Homo sapiens: one gene and its partners. The protein of the gene in region 4 interacts with the protein of the main gene of each other region in a pairwise test. Each region holds a gene or a part of one and is shown on either strand. Other genes may lie near its edges.

Evidence for each region.
Region 1: the proteins of UNC50 (region 4) and CLRN1 interact in binary tests that used the Homo sapiens proteins (3 or more experiments, as listed by UniProt).
Region 2: the proteins of UNC50 (region 4) and SLC71A2 interact in binary tests that used the Homo sapiens proteins (3 or more experiments, as listed by UniProt).
Region 3: the proteins of UNC50 (region 4) and SGPL1 interact in binary tests that used the Homo sapiens proteins (3 or more experiments, as listed by UniProt).
Region 5: the proteins of UNC50 (region 4) and SLC10A6 interact in binary tests that used the Homo sapiens proteins (3 or more experiments, as listed by UniProt).
Region 6: the proteins of UNC50 (region 4) and MTIF3 interact in binary tests that used the Homo sapiens proteins (3 or more experiments, as listed by UniProt).
Region 7: the proteins of UNC50 (region 4) and HSD17B13 interact in binary tests that used the Homo sapiens proteins (3 or more experiments, as listed by UniProt).

The regions. Positions count from the first base shown.
Region 1 is NC_000003.12:150,962,728-150,966,227, forward strand, and holds part of CLRN1 (clarin-1), read right to left. Parts: intron 1-3,500. UniProt on the Homo sapiens protein: May have a role in the excitatory ribbon synapse junctions between hair cells and cochlear ganglion cells and presumably also in analogous synapses within the retina.
Region 2 is NC_000009.12:94,381,069-94,384,568, reverse strand, and holds part of SLC71A2 (hippocampus abundant transcript-like protein 1), read right to left. Parts: intron 1-3,500.
Region 3 is NC_000010.11:70,867,948-70,871,447, reverse strand, and holds part of SGPL1 (sphingosine-1-phosphate lyase 1), read right to left. Parts: intron 3,104-3,500; coding exon 3,015-3,103; intron 1,657-3,014; coding exon 1,551-1,656; intron 401-1,550; coding exon 302-400; intron 1-301. UniProt on the Homo sapiens protein: Cleaves phosphorylated sphingoid bases (PSBs), such as sphingosine-1-phosphate, into fatty aldehydes and phosphoethanolamine. Elevates stress-induced ceramide production and apoptosis.
Region 4 is NC_000002.12:98,615,089-98,618,588, forward strand, and holds the end of UNC50 (protein unc-50 homolog), read left to right. Parts: intron 1-1,118; coding exon 1,119-1,258; intron 1,259-1,343; coding exon 1,344-1,445; intron 1,446-3,057; coding exon of another isoform or gene 3,058-3,079; coding exon 3,080-3,216; 3' UTR 3,217-3,427; downstream 3,428-3,500. UniProt on the Homo sapiens protein: Involved in the cell surface expression of neuronal nicotinic receptors. Binds RNA.
Region 5 is NC_000004.12:86,839,385-86,842,884, forward strand, and holds part of SLC10A6 (sodium-dependent organic anion transporter), read right to left. Parts: intron 1-3,500. UniProt on the Homo sapiens protein: Transports sulfoconjugated steroid hormones from the extracellular compartment into the cytosol in a sodium-dependent manner without hydrolysis.
Region 6 is NC_000013.11:27,444,065-27,447,564, forward strand, and holds part of MTIF3 (translation initiation factor IF-3, mitochondrial), read right to left. Parts: intron 1,093-3,500; 5' UTR 1,024-1,092; intron 1-1,023. UniProt on the Homo sapiens protein: IF-3 binds to the 28S ribosomal subunit and shifts the equilibrium between 55S ribosomes and their 39S and 28S subunits in favor of the free subunits, thus enhancing the availability of 28S subunits on which protein synthesis initiation begins.
Region 7 is NC_000004.12:87,309,383-87,312,882, reverse strand, and holds part of HSD17B13 (17-beta-hydroxysteroid dehydrogenase 13 isoform A precursor), read left to right. Parts: intron 1-2,523; coding exon 2,524-2,640; intron 2,641-3,500. UniProt on the Homo sapiens protein: Plays a pivotal role in hepatic lipid metabolism. In vitro, it catalyzes the oxidation of a variety of lipid substrates, including 17beta-estradiol, retinol, retinal, and leukotriene B4.

The DNA of each region.
Region 1 (3,500 bases), on a different chromosome or scaffold from region 4:
CACATGTGATCAGATATCTCTGCCTTACACCTAAACTGCCAACATTAAGGTAATATAATTACATAACCCAAAGATTGATCATAAGCATGTGACTTCCTCAACCAATATTATTAAACAGGCTTGACTTGGCTATTTTACCTTGCAAGGATCAAAGATTAAGATTTAGACATCAGGATCACTAAAATGTGAAATAAAAAGGCAATGAATGAATTCAAGTCATAAGGCCAAATATTCTCAGATGGTTACATGAGAACCAGCTTTTGTGAGGCTTCAATACTATTCTTAAAATAGGTGGTGAACACTCCTATTCAACACAGTATTGGAAGTTCTGGCCAGGGCAAACAGGCAAGAGAAAGAAATAAAGCGTATTCAAATAGGAAGAGAGGAAGTCAAATTGTCTCTGTTTGCAGATGAGATGATTGTATATTTAGAAAACCCTGTCGTCTCAGCCCAAAATCTCCTTAAGCTGATAAGCAACTTCGGCAAAGTCTCAGGATACAAAATCAATGTGCAAAAATCACAAGCATTCCTATACACCAATAACAGACAAACAGAGAGCAAACTTATGAGTGAACTTCCATTCACAATTGCTACAAAGAGAACAAAATACCTAGGAATACAACTTACAAGGGATGTGATGGACCTCTTCAAGGAGAACTACAAACTACTGCTCAAGGAAATAAGAAAGGACACAAACAAATGGAAAAACATTCCATGCTCACGGATAGGAAGAATTAATATCATGAAAATGGCCATACTGCCCAAAGTAACTTATAGATTCAATGCTTTTCCCATCAAGCTACCATTGACTTTCTTCACAGAATTAGAAAAAACTACTTTAAATTTCATATGGAACCAAAAAAGAGCCTGAATAGTCAAGACAATCCTAAGCAAAAAGAACAAAACTGGAGGTATTACGCTACCTGACTTCAAATTATACTACAAGTCTACAGTAACCAAAACAGCATGGTACTTGTATCAAAACAGATACAGAGACCAATGAAACAGAACAGAGGCCTCAGAAATAATGCCACACATCTACAACCATCTGCTCTTTGACAAACCTGACAAAAACAAGCAACGGGGAAAGGATTCCCTATTTAATAAATGGTGTTGGGAAAACTGGCTAGCCATATGCAGAAAACTAAACTGGACCCCTTCCTTATACCTTATACAAAAATTAACTCAAGATGGATTAAAGATTTAAACATAAGACCTAAAACCATAAAAATCCTAGAAGAAAACCTAGGCATTACCATTCAGGACATAGGCGTGGGCAAAGACTTCATGACTAAACACCAAAAGCAATGGCAACAAAAGCCAAAATTGACAAATGGGATCTAATTAAACTAAAAAAACTTCTGCGCAGCAAAAGAAACTATTATCAGAGTGAACGGGCAACCTGCAGAATGGAAGAAAATTTTTGCAATCTACCCATCTGACAAAGGACTAATATCCAGAATCTACAAGGAAGTTAAACAAATTTACAAGAAAAAACCCCGTTAAAAAGTGGGCAAAGGATATGAACGGACACTTCTCAAAAGAAGACATTTATACGGCCAACAAACATGAAAAAAAGCTCATCATCACTTGTCATTAAAGAAATGCTAATCAAAACCACACTGAGATACCATCTCACTCCAATTAGAATGGCAATCATTAAAAAGTCAGGAAGCAACAGATGTTGGAGAGGATGTGGAGAAATAGGAACGCTTTTACACTGTTGGTGGGAGTGTAAACTAGTTCAGCTATTGTGGAAGACAGTGTGGCAATTCCTGAAGGACCTAGAACCAGAAATGCCATTTGACCCAGCAATCCCATTACTGGGTCTATACCCAAAGGATTATAAATCATTCTACTATAAAGACATATGCCCACATATGTTTATTGCAGCACTGTTCACAATAGCAAGGACTTGGAACTAAGCCAAATGCCCATCAATGATAGACTAGATTAAGAAAATGTGGCACATGTATACCATAGAATGGTATGCAGCCATAAAATGAGTTCATGCCTTTTGCAGGAACATGAATGAAGCTGGAAACCATCATTCTCAGCAAACTGACGCAGGAACAGAAAACCAAACACCGCATGTTCTCACTCATAAGTGGGAGTTGAACAATGAGAACACATGGACACAGGGAGGGGAATATCACACACCGGGGCTTGTCGGTGGGTGGGGGACTAGGGGAGGGATAGCATTAGGAAAAATACCTAATGTAGATGACAGGTTGATGGGTGCAACAAACCATCATGGCACGTGTATACCTATGTAACAAACCTGCATGTTCTGCACATGTATTTCAGAATTTAAAGTATAATAAAAAAAACTTTAAAAAAGATAGTGAAATTGAAGGATAATCTTACATATTTTCTTCATCTCTTTGTATCCCTTTTTCATATTCTAAGGGGGCAAAATGTAGCAGAGGAAGAGCATGATTTACCATATGCATATGAATTTGAATCCCAAGTCTGCTACCTATTAGCTATGTGACTTTGGAAAATTGTGGTGACCTCTCTGTTTCCAGTTTCCATATTTCTTCAAGAGAAACAGCATCATAATATGTCCCATGTAAGGGTTGTAGATAATACATACAAAATGCCTGGCACCTATGAGGCACCCAATAAGTGGGCAGCTGAAATAATATTCATTATTGAATATTGCTTTTATCAATATCATTCTATCATTATATCAATATCATAATATTAATTATAGTAATTCAATATTAATGAGTATATACTGATATACTTTTATGATTCTCAAAGTCTAATCTTTTGCCAGTGGCAGAGACCCACCCAATATTTTTTTCTTCTGAGAAGTCTGAAAGTCCTTGGGGAAGATGAGTCACCTTCAGAAATTAGAAAAGAAAGCAGAGCAGCAAATTGTGAGAACAGTTGAGGAGTCATCCTTCAATAGGTAAAGTTCATATACACCAGGGTTAAGTTCCAGGAGTGCCACTTAGAACCTGCCCCTGTCAGACTCCTCTTCCTCTCCCAGGTATGCTCGGGTCAATGATTTTACTACTATTAGGGTGTGGGATGATTTAAAGGGAAGGAAGGTATATGGGTGTGCGTGTGCACATGTGCTTACAAGTAAAATTATAATTCTTGAACAATGTTGATTCTGTACTTTTTTATGTGAATATGGGAAGATAGTTACTAGGGGAAGGGAGAAATAAAACTTCTTTTTCTGGATTAGGTAGGCAGAACCAGAAGTTCCTTTGCTTAAAGTCATTTTCTCCATATTCCTCACCAATTGGAGGATAAGTTCTGCCAAGTTCCTCTTCTGGGTAAAGAATGCCCTTGGAGAGGTCAGGCGTAGTGGCTTATGCCCATAATTCCAGCACTTTGGGAGGCCAATGCAGGAGGATTGCTTGAGCCCAGCAGTTTGAGACCTGCCTGGGCAACCCCATCTCTACAAAAAAATTTTTTAAAAGTTAGCCAGGTGTAGTGGCACATGCCTGTGGTCCCTTCTACTCAGGAGGCTGAGGTGGGAGGAT
Region 2 (3,500 bases), on a different chromosome or scaffold from region 4:
CAGGAGTTTGAGACCACCCTGGGTAACATGACAAAACTGCAACTCTACAAAAAATACAAAAATTAGCTGGGCCTGCTCGTGCGCGCCTGTACTCTCAGCTACTTGGGAGGCTGAGGTGGGAGGATCGCCTGAGCCTGGGGAGGTCGAGGCTCCACTGAGCCGTGATCATGCCACTGCACTCCAGCCTGAGCAACAGAGAGAGAGACCATGTGTCCAAAAAAAAAAAAAAAAAGGAAAATTTGACACACGGCACACATGGACAAACCTTGAGGACATTATGCAAGATGAAATAAGTCAATCACAAAAAGATAAGGATGAATATGGTATGATTCCATATATATGAGGTATCTAAAGTAAGTCAAACACATAGAAACAAAGGAGAATGGTGGTTGTCAGGGAATGGGAGGATGGCAAAAAATGGAGTTGTTGTTTCATGGGTATAGAATTTGTTTTGAAAGAAGAAGTAGTTCTGGAAATTGGCTGCAGAACAATGTGAATATACTTACACTACTGAAGTCTACACTTAAGAATGGTTAAGATGGTAACTTCTTTGCTATGTGTATTTTACCACAATTAAACAATTTTTTAAAAATCAACCGTATTTCTATATGCTGGCAACAAACAATTGTGAATTTAAATTTTAAAAAATTACATTTATGTAATGATACCATTTACAATAACGTCAAGAAATATGAAACGGAATAATCTGACAAAAGATGGGAAAGACATGTCAACTGAAAACTACAAAACTCAGCTGAAAGAAATTACAGATCTAAAATAAATGGAGAGATACTACATTCATGCATCAGAAGACTTGATCAATTCTTTCCAAACAGATCTTCACGGCAAAAGAATACCAATAACAATCCCAAAAGGCTTTCTTGTGGAAATTGCCAGGCTAATTCTAAAATGCAAAGACCCAGAATCACTAAAACGACTTTAAAAAATAACAAGATTGGGGGACTGTTAGTTTTCAAGTCTTATGAACCTCCAGTAATCAAGACTGCAGGGTACTGATGTAAAGACAAATAGATCAAAGGAACAGAATAAAGAGTTCAGAGACTGACTAATATATGGACAATTGATTTTTGACAAAGATGCAAAAGTAGACCAGGCATGGTGGCTCACACCCATAATCCCAGCACTCTGGGAGGCCAAGATGGGTGGATAACGAGGTCAGGAGTTCGAGACCAGCCTGGCCAACATGGTAAAACCCTGTCTCTATTAAAAATACAAAAATTAGCCAGGTGTGGTGGCGTGCGCCTGTAATCCCAGCTACTCAGGAGGCTGAGGCAGGAGAATCGCTTGAACCTGGGAAGTGGAGGTTGCAGTGAGCCGAGATTGCGCCACTGCACTCTAGCATGGGCGATGGGACAAGACGCCATCTCAAAAAAAAAAAAAAAAAAAGATGTAAAAGCTATTCAATGAATAAAAACATATTTTTCAGCAAATGAACAACTGTTCATAAACAAATAATTTCCATCCTTATTTTGCACCATATAAAAATGTAATCAAAATTAAACACAAACCCAATTGTAAAATCTAAAACTATAAAGCTTCCATAAACATAGAAGGAAGGCCAAGCACAATGACTCACGCCTGTAATCCCAGACTTTGGGAGGCCGAGGCAGGTGGATCACGAGGTCAGGAGATTGAGACCATCCTGGCTAGCGCGGTGAAACCCCGCCTCTACTAAAACTGCAACTCTACTAAAAATACAAAAAATTAGCCAGGCGTGGTGGCGGATGCCTGTAGTCCCAGCTACTCGGGAGGCTGAGGCAGGAGAATCGCTGGAACCCGGGAGGCAGAGATTGCAGTGAGCTGGAGATTGCAGTGGGCAGAGATTGTGCCACTACACTCCAGCCTGGGCGACAAAGAAAGAGACTCCGTCTAAAAAAAAAAGAAAAAATAGAAGGAAATTCCTATGATTTGGGATTAGGCAACAATTTCTTAAATATGAAACCAAAACCCTGATCTATAAAAGAGCAAATTGATAAATTTCATCAAAATTTAAAATTCCTGTTCTTCAAGACACTGCTGAGAGAATGAAAAGATGGACCACGGCCTAGAGAGAATGTATTTGCAAATCATTTGACGAGGGACTTGCATCCCAAATATGTAACGAATTCTCAAAACTCAATTACAAGAAAACAACCAACCAACAACAACAACAAAAAATAGGCAAAAGACAAGAACAGACACTTTGCCAAAAGGGATATACAGAAGACATATAAGTTTAGGGAAGTTGGGCACATGGCTCACACCTGTAATCCCAGCACTTTGCGAGGCTGAGGCAGGTGGACGACTTGAATCCAGGAGTTCAAGACCAGTCTGGGCAACATAGTAAGACCCCATCTCTATAAAAAATTAAAAAATTAGCTGGGTATGGTGGCATATGCCTGTAGTCCCAGTTACTCGAGAGGCTGAGGTGGGAGAATTACCTGCGCCCAGGAGGTCAAGGCTGCAATGAGCCAAGATCACGCCACCGCACTCCAGCCTGGGCAACCAAAGTGAGACTCTGCCGGAGGAGGAAAAAAAAAAAAACTTATGGAAAGATACTGAATGCCACTAGCCATAGGGAAGCACAAATTAAAAGAACAATGAGACATCACTAAAGACCAATTGGAAGGGCTAAAATTGGCCAGGTGTTGGTAAGGATATGGATGAACTAGAATTATCATACAGTGCTAGCTGCAATGTACAACTGTACAATTACTTTTAAAATAATTAGTTTGGCAATTTATTTTATTTTATTATTTTTTTAAAGACGGAGTCTTACCATGTTGCCCAGGCTGGTCTCAAATCCCTGGGCTCAGGCAATCCTCCTGCCTCGGCCTCCCAAAGTGCTGGGATTACACGCATGAGCCACCATGCCCAGCCAACAGTTTCTTAAAAAGTTAAATACATCTACCATATGACCCAGCCATTTCACTCCTATTTACTTTTAAAAAAGTGTATTCTGTACAAAGATTGGCACACAGATGTTCACAGCAGCTTTATTTGTAATAGCCAAAAACTGGTGAGAAGCCGAAAGTCCATCAACAAGGGAATGTACAAATCGTGGTTCATCCACAAATGGACTACTACTCAGTAATTAAAAAGAATGAACTACCGATTTACATAACACTGATAAATCTCAAAATAATTTATGCTGAACTTTTTAAAAGCCAAAGAGGAGAATATGCTGTATTTATAAAATAACAAAAAAAAAAAAAAGCTAGAAAATTCAAACCAGCTGGGGGCAGTAGCTCACGCCTGTAATCCCAGCACTTTGGGAGGCCGAGGCGGGCGGATGGTCTGAGGTCGGGAGTTTGAGACCAGCCTGACCAACATGGAGAAACCCCGTCTCTACTAAAAATACAAAATTAGCCTGGCATGGTGGCGCATGCCTGTAATCCCAACTACTTGGGAGGCTGAGGCAGGAGAATCACTTGAACCCAGGAGGCGGAGATTGTGGTGAGCCGTTATCACGCCATTGCACTCCAGCCTGGGCAACAAGA
Region 3 (3,500 bases), on a different chromosome or scaffold from region 4:
TGGTGGGCACATTCCTACATGCAGATTATTTCCAGATCTCAATCTAGAAGGCAATCCTATTTCAGAATTTCCAGTTTAAAAGGCCTCAGCCTTGTACTATCTTCCCCCACAGCAGAGACTAGCAACTTTTAAAGGCTTGCAACTGAGCTGCAGGGCTTCCCCTAGGGCTGATGAGAGCTACTTATCACTACTGTGGTCAAAAACAAAAAAAAAATCGCTTCTATTTGCCAAGTACTGCCCCATTAGGCTTTGTTTTAAAATATCCATTTGCCTGCCTTAGCAGCCCATTTCTCTCATATACCTTGGCCACTTCAGGGACAGGATCTATTACACCATGAGGAAACTGTGGGGTAGAACAGACGAGCATGGCAGTGTTCCTGGAGATAGCTCTTCTCATTGCCTAGGGATTTAAAGTTTAAAGGAAAATGAGAATCTATGTCACAATTACTCTTCTCTTCTGCTGCCAAGAGCAATTTGGGCTGCTAGCTTAGAGTTCCAGTTCCACCAGTACCCCCTCCTTCACCACTCCAACTGGGAGAAGACTGCATCCCACCACGGTGACAGGACACAGGTGACTCCAGGTAAGTCCATTTGGAGAATAGTCTGAGAGCACAAAATAAGAACAGAATCGCTGTGGGGGCGAAAATAATATTGAGCTAAGAGGCCAAAGAGCCAAATGTGAGCCCCAGCCCCACAACGTACCAGCAGTGAAACCCTGAGTATGCTACTTCAGTCTGTTCCTTATCTGTGAACTACAATAATATAACAGCTTCATCAACCTCTCTGGAATGTCATAAAGCTCAAATGGGATTCTGACAGAACACTGAAACTAGAAAACTCCTCTACACAAATGTGAGGCATAAAAATAATCACTATCATAATGACAATGGTATTAATTTAAGCCAATCTAAACCACAGTGAGAGTCTTTTTTTTTTTTTTGAGACAGGGTCTTGCTCTGTCACCCAAGCTGGAGTACAGTGGTGTGAACACAGCTCACTGCAGCATCAACCTCCTGGGGCTCAAGTGATCCTCCCACCCCAGCCTCCCGAGTAGCTAGGACTACAGGTGCATGCCACCATGTCCAGCTACTTTTTTAAATTTTGTGTAGAGATGGGGTCTCACTATGTTGCTCAGACTGGTCGCAAACTCCTGGGCTCAAGGGTTCAAGTAATCCTCCCTCCTCGGCTTCCCAAAGTGCTGGGATTACAGATGTGAGCCACCATGCCCGGGCCATGGTAAGAGTCTTAGGGGAAGTGAGTCCATGTTCATTTTACAAATAGAGAAAAGAAAGAAAAAGTGATGGCGCTGACCGCAAAACCAGTGTCTCTCAAGTCCCAAGTTAGTGACTAGATCACCTCCCTTTCAGAATTCATGAACCTATGAAAAGACTGAAGCTGCAGTCAATCACCACTATCAATGCAGTTTTTCATATTCTGGCTGCCACAATCAAAGGCAGTCAGACCCATCTGACTGGAAACGGCTAGTCAACAGGAGGGCCCTTCTGCTGTCAGGGCCCAGCACAGACAGTGGGCCCTCCAGAGGGACTCACCCGCACATCCACCTCCATCATCTTCGTCAATGGGACCCGCACAATCTTCATCCCAAAGTAACTGGCTGCTTTGTTAAATGCAGCATGGGCACTTTGGGGAGCCACACTAAATGACAGGGAAGAGGAGAATAATGTAACTCAGGCCAAAATAATAGAAAACACCATTAGCAGCTAATCTAAATTACCGGGAGTAAGTTCTGATTATTTTTCCCCAAATTAAAAATTTAAGTGTTTAGACTGCTCTACTTTTCTTTTTAAGCACACCCAAAAAGAGGCCAACTGATTTTCTGCAGAAACTTCCCTCCTATTTAGGAAATCATTCTGGCAATAGGAAGAGGACTCAGAAGTGATCCCACAGTGAGGGATCCAAAGCATAAAGCTAGGCTGGCAGGCGGAAAGCTGGGGGACAGAGACTTTGGATGAGAGCAACACAAGGCAGAGCTGGCTAACGGTTGCCTACCAAAGACAGGCACCTCAGTGAGAATGAGAAGAAGGCTTCCCGGCACAACACATGTTCAAGCAGAAATGTTCACACAGCGGCCAAGCATCAGCTCAGTGGCCCCTTCCAACTCTGAAAGACAACAAACCTGAAGAAACTAAAATCCCCATTTCTCCTACACATTTGGAAATAGTATTTCAAATAGTGTTGAAAGAGAAAATGAGGTCACGGGTATTTGCTTTAGACTTTCCTCAACTACTCCATTCATACAACGAATCTGTTCCCTCTAAGGAGAAAAATCTCTACTACTGAGGAAGTACCAAGCACCAAAGATCGACATATGAAGAAAGAATGGCAGCCTGGTTTATTCTCTTATGCTACATATGAACCACAGCATGAGACCATATGCAATAAATCCCCATTGTCAAGTAATACTTGCAGTAAAAATATTAAGATGTAGGATAAACATACTGTACAAGGGGACAGTCTAGGAAAAAATAATGTAACTAAACATCAAATTTATGTCCAAGGAAGGCAATGTGGGTAAATCTCAAAAAGATATTTTTATTCTTCCTCCCAGAAAACAGCCCTCACACTAAAGTTTTCCCAGAGAGTACCCTGAGGCAGCCTATAATATTAAGTAACTTTCTAAGGTAAGCAGAACTAAAGTACCTAGAGAGGTTTCTTTAGGCTCCAAATAATTTGCAAATATCACAGGATTCAAAGATGTAGTCCTCAAACTCTCACTTTTGGAAAAAGGATCTTATTTTTGCTTGTAGTATATACTATGCATGATCTGGGGGTGGGGCGGGATGGGAATGATCTTTAAAAATAACTGGCTGATCCATTTAGAATTTTACTGAATGTAAAAGGATAAGGGCAGAGGGGCTAGGACAGGGGGAAAGGGGACCAGAATTACCAGAGGAAGAGAAGCAGCAGGAAAATGGATTATCTGCTTTAGTTTCATAAAGCTGTACTCCAGACAGACAAATCCAAAAGGGGACAAAACAGCCACACATACATACATTTCTGGAGTTTTGATCCCCTTCTCAAAGGCCAGATCCCGATATGCTTTGCAGGCCATCAGTATGCTTTCTGTTCCCCCAGAAGTCACCTATAATAAAGAAGAGATGCCATCTGTTGGGGGAGTCAGGAATGCCCCGGCTCTTCATGCCCTGATCTTGACAATGTTTGATACAGAAACAGATAAGGTCTTGGATGCATGCTGCAAGGCAGACACTGCCATGTCTTCCAGAAGGAAAATTTGGCTTTATTGGCTAAGCCTAATTTTGGCTCAGGTGAAGAATGAAAGCTACTAAATAATGAGCAGAAACTCAGCACTGCCTAGACAAATGCACACTTGGCCAGATCCCACCTATTCACAATCCATTTACATTTCTGTATTAATTTTTCAATTTTCAGATAAGATAGGGCATTTTATGCCATTCAAAAATATCAGAATTTTAATTTAAATTTTCAATACCTGTTAAAGAATGTGAAATTGTGATTAC
Region 4 (3,500 bases):
CATACACTTGAATAATTGTTCTTATGGCTGGATGCGTCACTCTTCCTAACTGCTTCTTACTATTTCATCCTCCTTTTAATAGGGGGTTGACCCAGGTCTTGGGCCTTGGGCCTGTTCATTATCCACATTCATTTTTTTGGTGACATCATTCAGGCCCGTGGCTTTAAATATTAATATCATCTACACACTGATGAGTTTATATTTCCAGTTTGGACTTGTCTTCTAAACTCTAGACATTGTATACAACTTCTTACTCCATACTAGTTGGCATCTTCAACATAACAGGTCCAAATTCAAACTTCCGCACACTCCTTCCCACCTCAAAACCACTCTTCCCACAGCCAGCCCCACCTCAATTAAAGGCAGCTCCATCTTCCATTTGTTCAAGGCAGAAATCTCTCAGTCATCCTTGAGTATTTTTTTCTCATACTCCAATCCAATAATGTCAGGAGCTCTACCTTCAGAGTATCGTGTGTGCCACATCTTAGCACCTCCACTGCCACCAGCCCCTCTGCTCATCTCTTCCTTGCAGTAGCCTTCTAACTGGTCTCTGCTGCCAGTCTTGTCTCTGGAGTCTGTTCTCAGATCCGCCACCAGGGAGGCTCTGTCAAGGCATTTAAGTCAAATACTTTTCTCAGAACTCCACAGTGGCTTCTCACGTCACCAGGAATAAAAGCCAAAGATTGTAAAACGGCCACAGGCTTCGTAAGACATGGAGCCTGTGTGACTTGATGTTGGGCCCAACCCTGTTTCTTTTCTGGCTTCATTTCTTGCTCCTTTTCTTTCAGACACTGGTCTTTTCACCATTCCTCAGGCCTGCCAGGCACCATCACTATCCTTGGGTCTTTACCCAAATGTTACTTTATGACCCTCATATGTACAATTGCATCTCAAGTTTGTATTCTCCACATTTCTCTGCTGCTTTCTCTCTTTCCATAATACCATCTGACATAGGTGTATCATTGTCAGCCTTCCTTCCTAGATGGAAGGCAGGGATTTTTGTCTGTTTTGTTTACTGGTATATCTCCAGAATTTAGAATGTCTGCCGCATAGAAAGTCGTCAGTAAACATTTACAGAATTCATTTTATTATGAAAGAAATTTTAATTTTGCTCTTAGGTTCATCTCTAACAAGTATTTAGTGAAACGACAGAGCAGAGACTATGATGTGGAATGGGGCTATGCTTTTGATGTGCATCTCAATGCTTTTTATCCACTCCTGGTCATTTTGCATTTTATCCAGCTTTTTTTCATCAACCGTAAGTAGCAGTTAATTAGAGTATTATCCAAGTCTTCATTGCATGCATTGGTAAAGGGACTCATGGTCTGCGTCTCTTCTGGCAGATGTTATCCTGACAGACACATTTATTGGATATTTAGTTGGAAATACCTTATGGTTGGTTGCAGTTGGCTATTATATCTATGTAACTTTCCTGGGATACAGTGGTAAGTAATTTTTTTAAATGTTTTTGGTTGAGAACATAGCAAGAGGGGGAAAGTTGTAACAGTAGTACAAACAGCTGCTTTTATGGAACACTTACAGGCACTATCCTAAGTATTTTATGTGCATTATCTCATTTAATCTTCATGACAATTACACAGGTTTGTTTCTGTTTTCAAATGAGGAAACTGAGGCAGAGAGATTAAGCAACTTACCCATGGTCATGCAGCTAGAAAATGGCCTAGCTGGTATATAACAGATTTTATACTTTCAAGGAAACATGTTAAACCATACTGGTTATCTCCAGATGACTTGCAGGAATCCAAGACCATTCACTCCTCTTCTCCCATGCTTTCAGGTTGTGGGTTACCAGCAGGAGGGTAGAGCGAAGAAAGGTGGGGCCCAGCATCTTGTTACATAGGTCTATGAACTGAAGTTCTCTAAAGCCTTTTGAATCATAACTTTTTGCCCCATTCTTAGTTTTCATGATTACCGTATGGTTCTGTAGACAATCACAGAAGATCGGGCCCAACATTTATTGTCCTCAGGACATGTTTGCAGATTTACTGTTAAATCCTGTTGTCAGTTCATTTTTCTTAATATGAATGAGGAACATATATTATTTTTCATTTATGTTAAGAAATGATCCCATTAAATAAAGCCAAATAAAATCTAGAGACTGCGCTGTACGTTTCTTACCCCTTCCTTTCCTGTTACTGTAGATGATTAGGGCCTAACTGTAAATACAGATGGCTCTGACTATGCCTGGCTCCGGAGTTATTCCCACCCCGGTTCTCTCCCCCCTTGGCTGGTTTGTCAGGGAACACTTAACCCCTTCATTGTAATGCCTTGTTTGGGGAGTGCTTTCTCTAGTCCAGGGGAGATGTTTGTGTCATTTCTAATGAATTTTGAAAGTGTTTTGTGATGAGAACACTGCAGCACTGTGGTTTCTCTAAGTGGTTATTTGAACACTCCTGGTAACGACCTATACCACTTAGAATAGTTGGAGTACAGCTCAGTTTGTTTAAGAACTTCCTATATGAGAAATACTTAGGTCGGGATGCATGGGGTAGGGTCCCGCTAACTAAGCAGTGAGCAAGAAACATCAATATTTGGAGCCAGACTTTTATATTTAAGAGTTTCAGTTCTTTTCTGAAGCCTGGGCTACTAGTTGAGCTCACACCCTCTTAAAGTGGGGGTATAATGCTTTACACTGGAAAATCTCAAATAGCTAAAAGATGTTTTCCTATAACGCCATCCATCTCTGTACTTTAAGTTGGACTCCTAGAGGTTTCTGAGGCAGTCACAAGTTTAAATTCACCACTGTTTTCATGAATATTTGTGACATTTCTCCCTCATTGTTAACCTCTCTTGGTCCAGTGTATGATGTCCCACTCAGCCTCTGTGCTGAAATAATTCCTCTCCTAGGTTTCTTCCCAGCCCTAGACAAGGAGGAAACAGCACAGAGGGGTTGGGAAGAGTAGTCTAGTTCTGGGCATAAATAGCATCATCTTACTGATTCAAAATATGCATTCCCTTCCACCCCACATGTTGAAGTAAGCTGTCTTTCAAAATGTTCATTTATTAGTCATTTATTTTTTTTTTTTTTTAAATCAGTTTGGATTCCTTTCTTTTCCAGCATTGCCATTTTTGAAAAATACAGTAATTCTTCTGTATCCATTTGCACCTCTGATTCTGCTCTACGGGCTTTCCCTGGCACTGGGATGGAACTTCACCCATACTCTCTGTTCTTTCTATAAGTACAGAGTGAAATAAAAAGTGAGAAGAAGATTCAATCGTAACTGTGTCAACAGTATTGTGAAGTGATCATTTCTTGTAAAACTTGTAAATAAACTATCATCTTTGTAGATATCTTAAAGGTGTAAAGTTTGCAAATTTGAAGAAATATATATTAACACTGTGGTCAGGTACATTCCTTAAAACTAATTAAATGTACATTTCTATAATAAATATTTTTTAAACTAAAGCATGTGTGTTCACTCTAATATTTGCAAATGTAAGAGCTACATGTAAAATGCTAATGGCATGGGGAAAACATA
Region 5 (3,500 bases), on a different chromosome or scaffold from region 4:
AGGCTGCAGTGAGCTATGCTCACACCACAACACTCCAGCTTTGGGGACAGAAGGAGGCCCTGTCTCTAAAAATAAAAAAAGGAACCTTATAATATACCTTACTCTGCAACTTGTTTGCTTTTTTTCCCACTTCATCTATCACAGACATCCTCTCAGACCAATACATTTAAACTTATTCTTTTAAAGAACTGCGAAATATGCCATAATCTAAATATGCCATAATTTCTTCAATCACTTCATTAACCATAGGTCAGTTGCTTTTAGTTTTTTGCCATTATAAATAATGTTATAATAAACACTCTCATACATACTTCACTTGAAATGATTCTTTTCTTTCTGTGAATTCCCAAGGTGGAATTGCTATGTAAAAGTCTGTGTTTTTTGTTTTAATATATACTTTCAGACTACTTTCCAAAAAGATTGCTACATTTCACAATCTTGCCTACTCCGGATGTGATCAGTCCCTTCTAATTGTCATGCCAGCATTGAAAAATTGATCTCACTCTTGTTACACTCTTATTTTTTTTTTTTATTTTTTTTTTTTAGCTGGAGCTCACTCTGTCACCCAGTCTGGAGTGCAGTGGCCTGATCTTGACTCACTGCAAGCTCCGCCTCCCAGGTTCAAGCAATTCTCTCTGCCCCAGCCTCTGGAATAGGTGGGATTACAGGTACCCGCCACCACACCAGGCTAATTTTTTTTTTTTTTTTAATTTTTAGTAGAGATGGGTTTTACCATGTTGGCCAAGCTGGTCTCGAACTCCGGACCTCAGGTGATCCACCCACCTTGGCCTCCCAAAGTGTTGGGATTACAGGCGTGAGCCACTGCACCCAGCCGACACTCTGGATTCTATCAGGTTGTGCTTTCTTTCATGTCAAGTGGCTTCTTCTGTGTCCTCCTCTCTAAACAATCTTGCTTGTCAGACTTCTTCTCAACTTGTAGGAGTTCTTTTAAAATTAGGGCTCATATTACCATGAATAATACAAGTATTTTTTCCAAGCATGGTGTATATCTTTGACTTTGCTTATGACTTGCCATAATTAACATTTATATAGTCAGAGCTGTTTTTTTAATGGCTTCTGAGTTTCTTATCTTAAAGACCTACCCTGATCCGAGGGCATTCAAATATTGTCTTCTACTTTTTACTTTTATGCTTATATTTTCAACTGACTTAAAATTTATATTTTGCATGGTAACAGGTATGAGACTAATCCATTTTTTCTATTAATATATTGAGATGCAAGTGTGTCAATATAATCTACTAAAATAAACCATTTTCCACTATACTGAAGTGTCACCTTTATCATTTATTAAATGCCCAAGTGTACACAAAATATTTTCTGGAAATTCTCTTCTAGCTCATTGATAAATAACTTTCTTTTTTCCTGAACAAATACTAGACTAATTACAGTGTTCTCATATATGGTAGGGCAAATACCTCCACATAAATTTCCCTTTTCAAACTTGTCTTAGCAGTTCTTGCTTATATTTTATTCCATATGAAACCCAAAATTATTTTATCCTATTAAGAATGCTTACTTTAAGCAAAGATTTCTTCCTGACTAGTAGGCAATTTAAAAGAAAAAAAGCAGTTTGCCACAGCTCTCAAACCTCTGTATCCACAAAGAGGCTGTTTAGAAAGTTTTTTCCAAATTCTTAGTCTATGATAGTGCTACATTCCTTGACTCTCCATATTACTAAGTCCTGAATGGAATTCCATATTATATCACTTTACTCTTGAACTTCTGGAGAACCAGCACAACATTTCTCTACTGAATGGCTTTGGCTCAAACAGCAGAAAGGTAAGACTCATGATTATGGGAAGCAAAGTGAGATTTATATCCGACTGATTCTATATCCTTGATTACCTATGTGATTGCTTCCATGTTTATACAATTTTCAAGCCCATGGTGATCATGATATTGGTCAAGGATGGCAAGAGGTTATCCTGGTGCTCTGCCAACTGTTACAAATACCAGCAAAGGTGGAAAAGCACACAGTGAATGCCTGTGAGTACAGTGGAAAGTCACGCCTTGTATTTTTAGCCATGAAATTCCAATGTAGCATAAACAGAGGATGTGGCTAAGTAAGTCTCTTGACTTTTCATGTATAGGAAAATTTTTGGCAAAATCTAACTTCAGTATAACAAGATTCCACTTGCATTGAGAAGAATAGCATCATCATCTCCAAACTATTACAGAAAATAATGAGACATATTCAGCAAGTCTAGACAAACAGGTCAGTCTTGAACCCTCCCTTAAAGCAGGGAAATTACATATATACACATTACATTAAAATGCAGTGTCAATAACATTTTGCAATTGGAGATTAAGTTATTATAAATTGTTTTAATTTCAAAAATCCCATAAAATCAGGAACTCTGACCCTCAAAACTATGAAAGTATACACTTGCTTTCCGACTGAAAGAAATAAAAAATTATCCAGCTAACCAGATGGACACGGAGTGAGCTATAAGATCATACCAACAGATTTGACCCTAGAATAGAGCGTAAGGCCCGATTTTCCATCCCTCAATATAAATGTTACCCTTGTCTGCTGCCTTCCAATAATAATGAGTATTTATTGAGCACTATGTGCTAGGTGTTATGTCTCATGCTTTTATATACATTTTCTCTTTTCATCTACATAATAACTCTATGTGTGAGTATTATTTTCATTGTATAGATAAGGAAATTAAAGTACATAGAGACATGGAAGCTTGCATGAAGTCTCATGAATTCAGTCTCCGTTCTGTCTCCAAAGCCTTAAATGCAAAGGACCTTCAGTTTTCCACCAAGACATGTCAGATAGACCTGAACAATTTGAAGTTCTATTTCCAGGTTCTCTACTGAAGGACTAAGAACTTCTTTAAAGTTCAAAGGTCAAAGTTGGCCACTGAGCTCCACAGGCTCCAACACCACCAGTGGTCAGAATCCTTTGTCTGCAGCTGAGGACATAAATACATCCTTACGGAAGAATGGACCTCTTGTATATATCAAAAGTTCTCAAACAAAGATAGTGGGAGGCCAGGCGTAAGTGGCCCACACCTGTAATCCCAGCACTTTGGAAACCCTAGGTGGGAGGATTGCTTGAGCCCAGGAGTTCAAGACCAGCCTGGGCAACATAGTGAGACCTCATCTCTGTAATAAAAAATAAAAAATTAGCTGGGTATGATGGCGCATGCCTATAGTCCCAGCTGCGCTGCTCAGAAGGCTGAGGTGAGAGGATCACTTGACCCCAGAAGGCCAAGACTTCAGTGAGCCATGATTGTACCACTGCACTCCAGTCTGATGACAGAGTCTAAGACCCTGTCTCAAAAAAAAAAAAAAGAAAAGAAAAGAAAAGAAAAGAAAAGACAAGACAGTGGGAGCTGTCCTGAGTTGCATCAATAAATGGACACCTCTTTTCTTTCTTTCTTTCTTTCTTTCTTTCTTTCTTTCTTTCTTTCTTTCTTTCTTTCTTTCTTTCTTTCTTTCTTTCTTTCTTTCTTTCTTTTTTTTTT
Region 6 (3,500 bases), on a different chromosome or scaffold from region 4:
AGGCTGAGGTGGGCGGATCACAAGGTCAGGAGATCGAGACCATCCTGGCTAACACAGTGAAACCCTGTCTCTACTAAAAAATAAAATAAAAATTAGCTGGGCGTGGTGGCGGGCGCCTGTAGTCCCGGCTACTCGGGAGGCTGAGGCAGGAGAATGGCGTGAACCCGGGAGGCGGAGCTAGCAGTGAGCGAGATTGCGCCACTGCACTCCAGCCTGGGCGACAGAGCGAGACTCTGTCTCAAAAAAAACGAAAAAAAAAAGAAAAACACTGGAAGTATATAACTTTTAAAGTTCTTTGCCACTAGTTTAAATTTTTAAGAAACTTCAATTTTTATTGATGTATACAGCAAACAATGCAATTCATTGCAATTAAGCTTTAATACTAACTCAATACTGGCTTTAAATCAGCAAAATTGAAAATATACGTTTCTTCAAAACAGGCCCTTATAGATAAAAATATAAATACAAAGTTAAAACAACCTGTAATATTACATTTAAATTGCAGCTATCAACATAAATTCATAATTTAAAAACTTTTTATTAGGGAACTTTTTAACCTTGTACAGAAAGAACTGGATAATAAACAGCAGCTGGGTTTCATCTTTACCCCTCAACTATCTCCCCCCAACCATCCAGGAATGCTTTCAAAGTAAATCCTACTTTTTCAGGAAATAGTATGTATCTCTAAGAGGTACTCCTTAATCTTTTTAGTATTCACAATATTATCCCAATTAAAAAACGTTCCTTTATTTCATCAAATATTTAGCTTTCAGATTTCCATGATGGTATTATGATTTTGTTTGTTTACATGTCATTTACAGTTTGGCAGCATGAAGAGACTCCCACTGGTCAATTTTGGTGTAATTTAAACAGTAAGGCATAATCACTGTCATTCATTTCAATATACTGAATATACAAAAATCTATGAAAATGATAATTTGCCACAACTGCATGGGACTATTATATTGATTTTTTACTTTGAAAATTGCTAATTAAATAAAAAGAACTGAGCATTTATCCTACCTTTTTTAGGAAGAACTGTAATCATCCCCAGTTGATGAGGAGAAGCTCTTCTGTAGAGAAGAATGACAGCTAATAAACACAAAAGAAAAGTAAAAGTAATTAGAAAATCATGCCACGCACGATGTCTCACACCTGTAATCCCAGCACTTTGGGAGGCCAAGGCGAGAGGATCACTTAAGGCCAGGAGTTTGAGACCAGCCCGGGACACACAGCAAGACCCAGTCTCTACAAAAAATAAATTAGCCAGGTGTGTTGACACGCAACTGTACTCCCAGCTACTGGGGAGGCTGAGGAAGGAGGTTCACTTGAGCCCAGGAGGTTGAGGCTGCAGTGAGCTCTGATCACACCACTGCACTCCAGTCTGGACAACAGAGCAAGACCCTGTTTCAAAAAAAAAAAAAGAAAATCACCATTTTTCCAACCCCAACGAAACTACTGATTCAGGCAGGATGCAAGAGAGCTGATGCCAAAGGGTCACAAACAGATTACTTTCAGACTGAGAGGGAAAAGCACACTCTGCTGAGGGTAGACAGCTGTCTGTCATCCTAAGCCAACGTCAGACTCAGCATCTCCAACAGTGGAACAACCTGCCATCCTTGCCACATCTCTGGATGGGAAGCTACCCAAAGTGCATGGCACCTTCTATTAAGCAGCTTTGCCAAAAAGGTTTGACCTGAACCTGATGCAGGGTCTAGCTTCCAGTTTCCAGGGGATACAAGGGCCAGACTCAGAGAAACAATAGAAGATGCCACAAGGAAACAATCTGACAAATCCAGATGGAACAAGACACCTGGTTAGTGTCTAAAAAAGCCAATGCCATTGGGAATGAAAAGGGAAGAGGGAAGCTATTCTTGAGTGAAAAAAAAAATCAAGGAGACATAATTTTGCTGAAAAGAAATGTTGGGAATGAGGGGAAAATCTGAATAGGGACTAGGTATTAGATACTATTAGAGACGTATTGTTAATTTTCTTTTTTCTTTTTTTTTTGAGACAGGTTCTCACTCTGTCACCCAGACTGGAGTGCAGTGGGGCAATCTCGGCTCACTGCAACCTCCGCCTCCCAGGTTCAAGTGATTCTCCTGCTTCAGCCTCCCAAGTAGCCGGGATTACAGGTGTGCACCACTACCGCCTGGCTAATTTTTGTATTTTTAGTAGAGATGGGGTTTTACCATGTTGGCCAGGCTGGTCTCGATCTCCTGACCTCAAATGATCCACCTGCCTTGGCCTCCTGAAGTGTTGGGATTACGGGCGTGAGCCACGGCACCCGCCTGTTAATTTTCTTAGGTGTGAAAATGGAATTCTTAAGAAACAAATGCTGAAGTATTTAGGATAGTGTCATGACATCTATCACTTGCTTTGAAACCATACAGCAGAAAATATAAACAATGCACTTACGGCAGCATTTGCTAAATCTAGGTTATGGTTATACGGGTGTTCAATAATTAATACATTTTTAAAGAACAAATCAATAGCCTAGAGGGAGGAATGGTTCACTGGTAATGCCAATGTAACTATTCTAGTCTGTGTAAGTTCTAAATTTCACTGTAATTTAATACATTGACATTCTGGCTTTGTACATAATTTTAAAAAATATTCCCTTTATTCGTTTCAAGCCTATATCTAAGTGACCCATAAATAAGGAACTTTATAAACTTAAAATTCTGATTTTTTTGTAATGCATAGTGCCTTTATTTCTTCATTTAGTTTTCCTTAAACTCAGGTCTAAAAGTCTCATCATAAATGGTGATGGGGGCGGATGGGAAGGAGGCTGGCATAAAAAAAGTACACATTAGGTACAATGTATACGATTCGGGTGATGGTGCACTAAAATCTCAGAATTCACCACTATATAATTCGTCCATGTAATGAAAAACCACTTGCAGTCCAAAAGCTACTGAAATAAAAATTTTAGAAGAATAAAACAAATGGTGATGGTTTCAGTTTGAGGCAGAACTTGTACAATTTTTTGCTAGTGAACGGTTAAAAGTTAACTGGTCTACAATGGGGTGGTGTTTCTCAGAAACCACGGCCTGTCGGCATCACCTGGGGATGCTTTTCAAAACACAGATGTTTCCTCTTCCCTATCCTGTTCAGAACCAGTGGGTTAGGCCAAAAAAAAAAAAAAAAAGATGAACTTTAAGAAAAAGAGTAAGAAAACACTATAAGTGGGGTCAAGGGTAGTTTGAGCTAGGATGCCTGAGACTACCCCTAACCTTTCAAAGTTGAATAAAAATAGGAAGCCATGTTCTCTGATGAAAATCTCTGATGCCTCTGTGAGGTAAACAACACTAGGCTGAAGAGGCCAGGAGACTAACTCAAAATAGAAACAAACGCTTACGTTCTTATGATAATCCTGTTGCATTTGCTGCACTCACTCCCACAACTATACTCTCCGAGACAGCCACAATATTCTAAAAACCAATTATCTTAATGTCAATTACTTATAATGCATAACTTTATAGTATGATATCCATTTT
Region 7 (3,500 bases), on a different chromosome or scaffold from region 4:
TCACCATGTTGGCCAGGCTGGTCTCAAACTCCTGACCTCAGGTGTCCTACCTGCCTTGGCCTCCTAAAATGCTGGGATTACAGGAGTGAGCCACCATGCCCGGCCAAAAAAATAAGTTTTTAAAGAATTAAAGGTCATCCTGGCTAACACAGTGAAACCCCGTCTCTACTAAAAAACACAAAAAAATTAGCCGGGCGTGGTGGCGGGCGCCTGTAGTCCCAGCTGCGCGGGAGGCTGAGGCAGGAGAATGGCGTGAACCCGGGAGGCGGAGCTTGCAGTGAGCCGAGATCGCGCCACTGCACTCCAGCCTGGGCGACAGAGCGAGACTCCGTCTCAAAAAAAAAAAAAAAAAAAAAAAAAAAAAGAATTAAAGGTGTTAATTTTATTTAGAAGCCTTACTGAAGACTACAGTCGGAGGCCTATAGCCTGAGAGCAGCCCTTTAGAGAGGTTCAGTTGAACTGTTCTGATAGTGGGGGCCATGTGCTCTATCCTGTATTGTCTTCAAAGCATCTTTCCAGAGAGCTGCACATTGTCACAGAGTCAGGGACTTTGTGAAATTATGCTGACAACCAGAAGTGAGTAAACGTGGCTTCTTACATTTGCTACGTTGTCTCACAGTACTTAATAAGTATGCAATATGTAAGTAAATACTATAGTACTATTGCAACTCCTGATTGTTTTCTTAGACAAGGAATTGGGCCCAATAAAAACCCTCTTGGTAGGCATTCAGGCTTCGTGTACCATGAGCTTTCCTAAGGGTATCCTGCCACTCTTGGGGAAGGCATGATAGATGAGGGGAGTAAGGATAATGGAACTCTGGGTACAGGGTTCCTGGGGGCTAACTTAGAGGTAGACACAGGCAATGCTAAATATTTGGGATTGATTTTATAGAGGTTGCTAGATTGTGAATTTCCTTAGTAAGGGCTAAGGCATTGATATGTAATGTCACACTTGGCTCCGAGGCTGGGTTGTTGGATCCATGTAGATGAAATCAGGGAGAGAAAGGGCAGAACGGAGTAATTTAGAAATGTATTGATTTGTATTACTCTCTGTTGGCTTGCTATTCAAGGCAGTGGAGAACTCAATCACATAATAATCTGCAGCAAACCACAGATCATCCCAGGGAATGAAGTTTTAACATTCGCTGGCTCCCTAACTCCTCACCCAGCCTTTACATTCACTGGCTGTTCAGTCCATGCCTGGACATCTTAATTTGAATACAACATTTTAAATCCATTTTTCTGTCATCATCTTGCACTAACAGACAATTCTACACTAAGCCTATGTTTATGAATATTTCTCAAGAGTACATGTACACAGCCTTCAGTATAAGGAAAACTGGAAGTATGACATACCTCCAGTTGTCATACTCCTTGGGCCCCTCTTAAATTCTCATTAAACTGCAGGATAGGCAAGTCAGAGGTGAATCTCAAATACGAAATTCTTACCGGAAAGGGGTTCCAATCCAGACCCCAAGAGAGGGTTCTTAGATTTCTCGCAAGAAATAATTCGGGGCAAGGCCACAGTGCAAAGCAAAAGCAAGTTTATTAGGAAAGTAAAGGAGTAGAGAACAGCTACTCCATGGAGAAGAATGGCTTGAGCTGCTCCACCAAGGGTATTTAGAGTTACTTCTTGATTATATGCTAAACAAGGGGTGGATTATTCATGAGTTTTCCGGGAAAAGGGTGAGCAATTCCCAGAACTGAGATTTCCTCCCCTTTTTAGGCCATATAGGGTAACTTCCTGCCATTGCCATGGTATTTGTAAACTGTCATAGTGCTGGTGGAAGTGTCTCTTAGCTTGCTAATGTATTATAGTTAGCTTATAATGAGCAGTGAGGACAACCAGAGGTCACTTTCATCACCATCTTGGTTTTGGTGGGTTTTGGCCGGCTTCTTTACTGCACCCTATTTTATCAACAAGGTCTTTATGACCTGAATCTTGTGCCAACCTCCTATCTCATCCTGTGACAAAGAATGCCTTAACTTCCTGGGAATGCAGCCCAGTAGGTGTCAGCCTTATTTTACCCAGACCCTATTCAAGATGGAGTTGCTCTGATTTAAACGCCTCTGACAAAATGACGACCTCAAAACAATCCAGCTTTATGGAATACCTCCACAAGAAAGAAAGTATACTTAGCTATAGAATTTTCTCCTTGCATCCAACAGGCTTTGAGATGTCAGATGTTTCCTTCCTGTCCCATGATTAATCCTAGCCATTCCTCTTTCTTGTCTGGCTCCACTACTCCTTACCATCTAATGCCTCGCCACCATTTTGATATTTTGACTAAGTGAGCTATGAAACACACCTACTGGATATGAAAGTATAAGTTTCTGATAACAAAACATCAACATGGGATGTGGAGGAAGTGGGTAGGGTGGCATTAATGCAGCAAATCCTGGAATATTTTAAATCTTCATTCTAAATTTAGTAAAAATATAGGATAATTTTCCTGCCATCATTTACTTATAAAATTAAAATTTTAGAAAATAAAAATAATATTTTCCTCTTTTTAATCACAGATTATGGCCTGTATTGGAGACAGATGAAGTCGTAAGAAGTCTGATAGATGGAATACTTACCAATAAGAAAATGATTTTTGTTCCATCGTATATCAATATCTTTCTGAGACTACAGAAGTAAGTACAGCACAGAACACCCAAATACTAAAACACCAATAGAGCTTTTTTTTTTGCTTTTTTTTTTTTTAGACAGAGTCTCACTCTGTCACCCTGGCTGGATTGCGGTGGTTGCAGTGGCATGATCTTGGCTCACTGCAACCTCCGCCTCCTGGGTTCAAGCAATTCTCATGCCTCAGACCCCCAAGTAACTGGGATTATAGGTGTGTGCTGCCACACTACACCCAGCTAATTTTTGTATTTTTTGATAGAGACAGGTTTCCCCATGTTGGCCAGGCTGGACTCGAACTCCTGACCTCAAGTTATCCTCCTGTCTCGGCCTCCCAAAGTGCTGGGATTACAGTCATGAGCCACCATGCCTGGCCCAATAGAGCTATTATTATGGAGCATCTTTCAGTTGTGAAAATTGGCATGGAAACTCTCCATCCCTGGGGAGAACAGTTATTTCCTCTGTTATTTTCCTACCCAGTCTATAAAAAGAGAGTGATTCATTTTCTCTACCAAATCTACTGTCTCTGCCCAAACTTTGCTGAAGACTATTCTAACTAAAGGAAACACAGTTTAAAAAGAATGCAATATAGTGAAGTAGTTAATAATAAAGACTCCATTTTTAAAAGTCTGCTGGAAGTTTGGTTGGGATTGCACTGAATCTATAGAGCAATTGGGGAGTATTGACATATCAACAATATTGAGTTTTCTAATCCAAGAACATAATATCTATTTTTAAAATCTTCTTCAAAATCTTTAAATCTTTAAATTGTATTTTGTAGTTTTTGGTGTTTAAGTCTTGCACATATTTTGTCAGATTTATTCCAAAGTATTTCACGGGTTCTTTTTTTTTTTTTTTTTTTTTTTTTTGA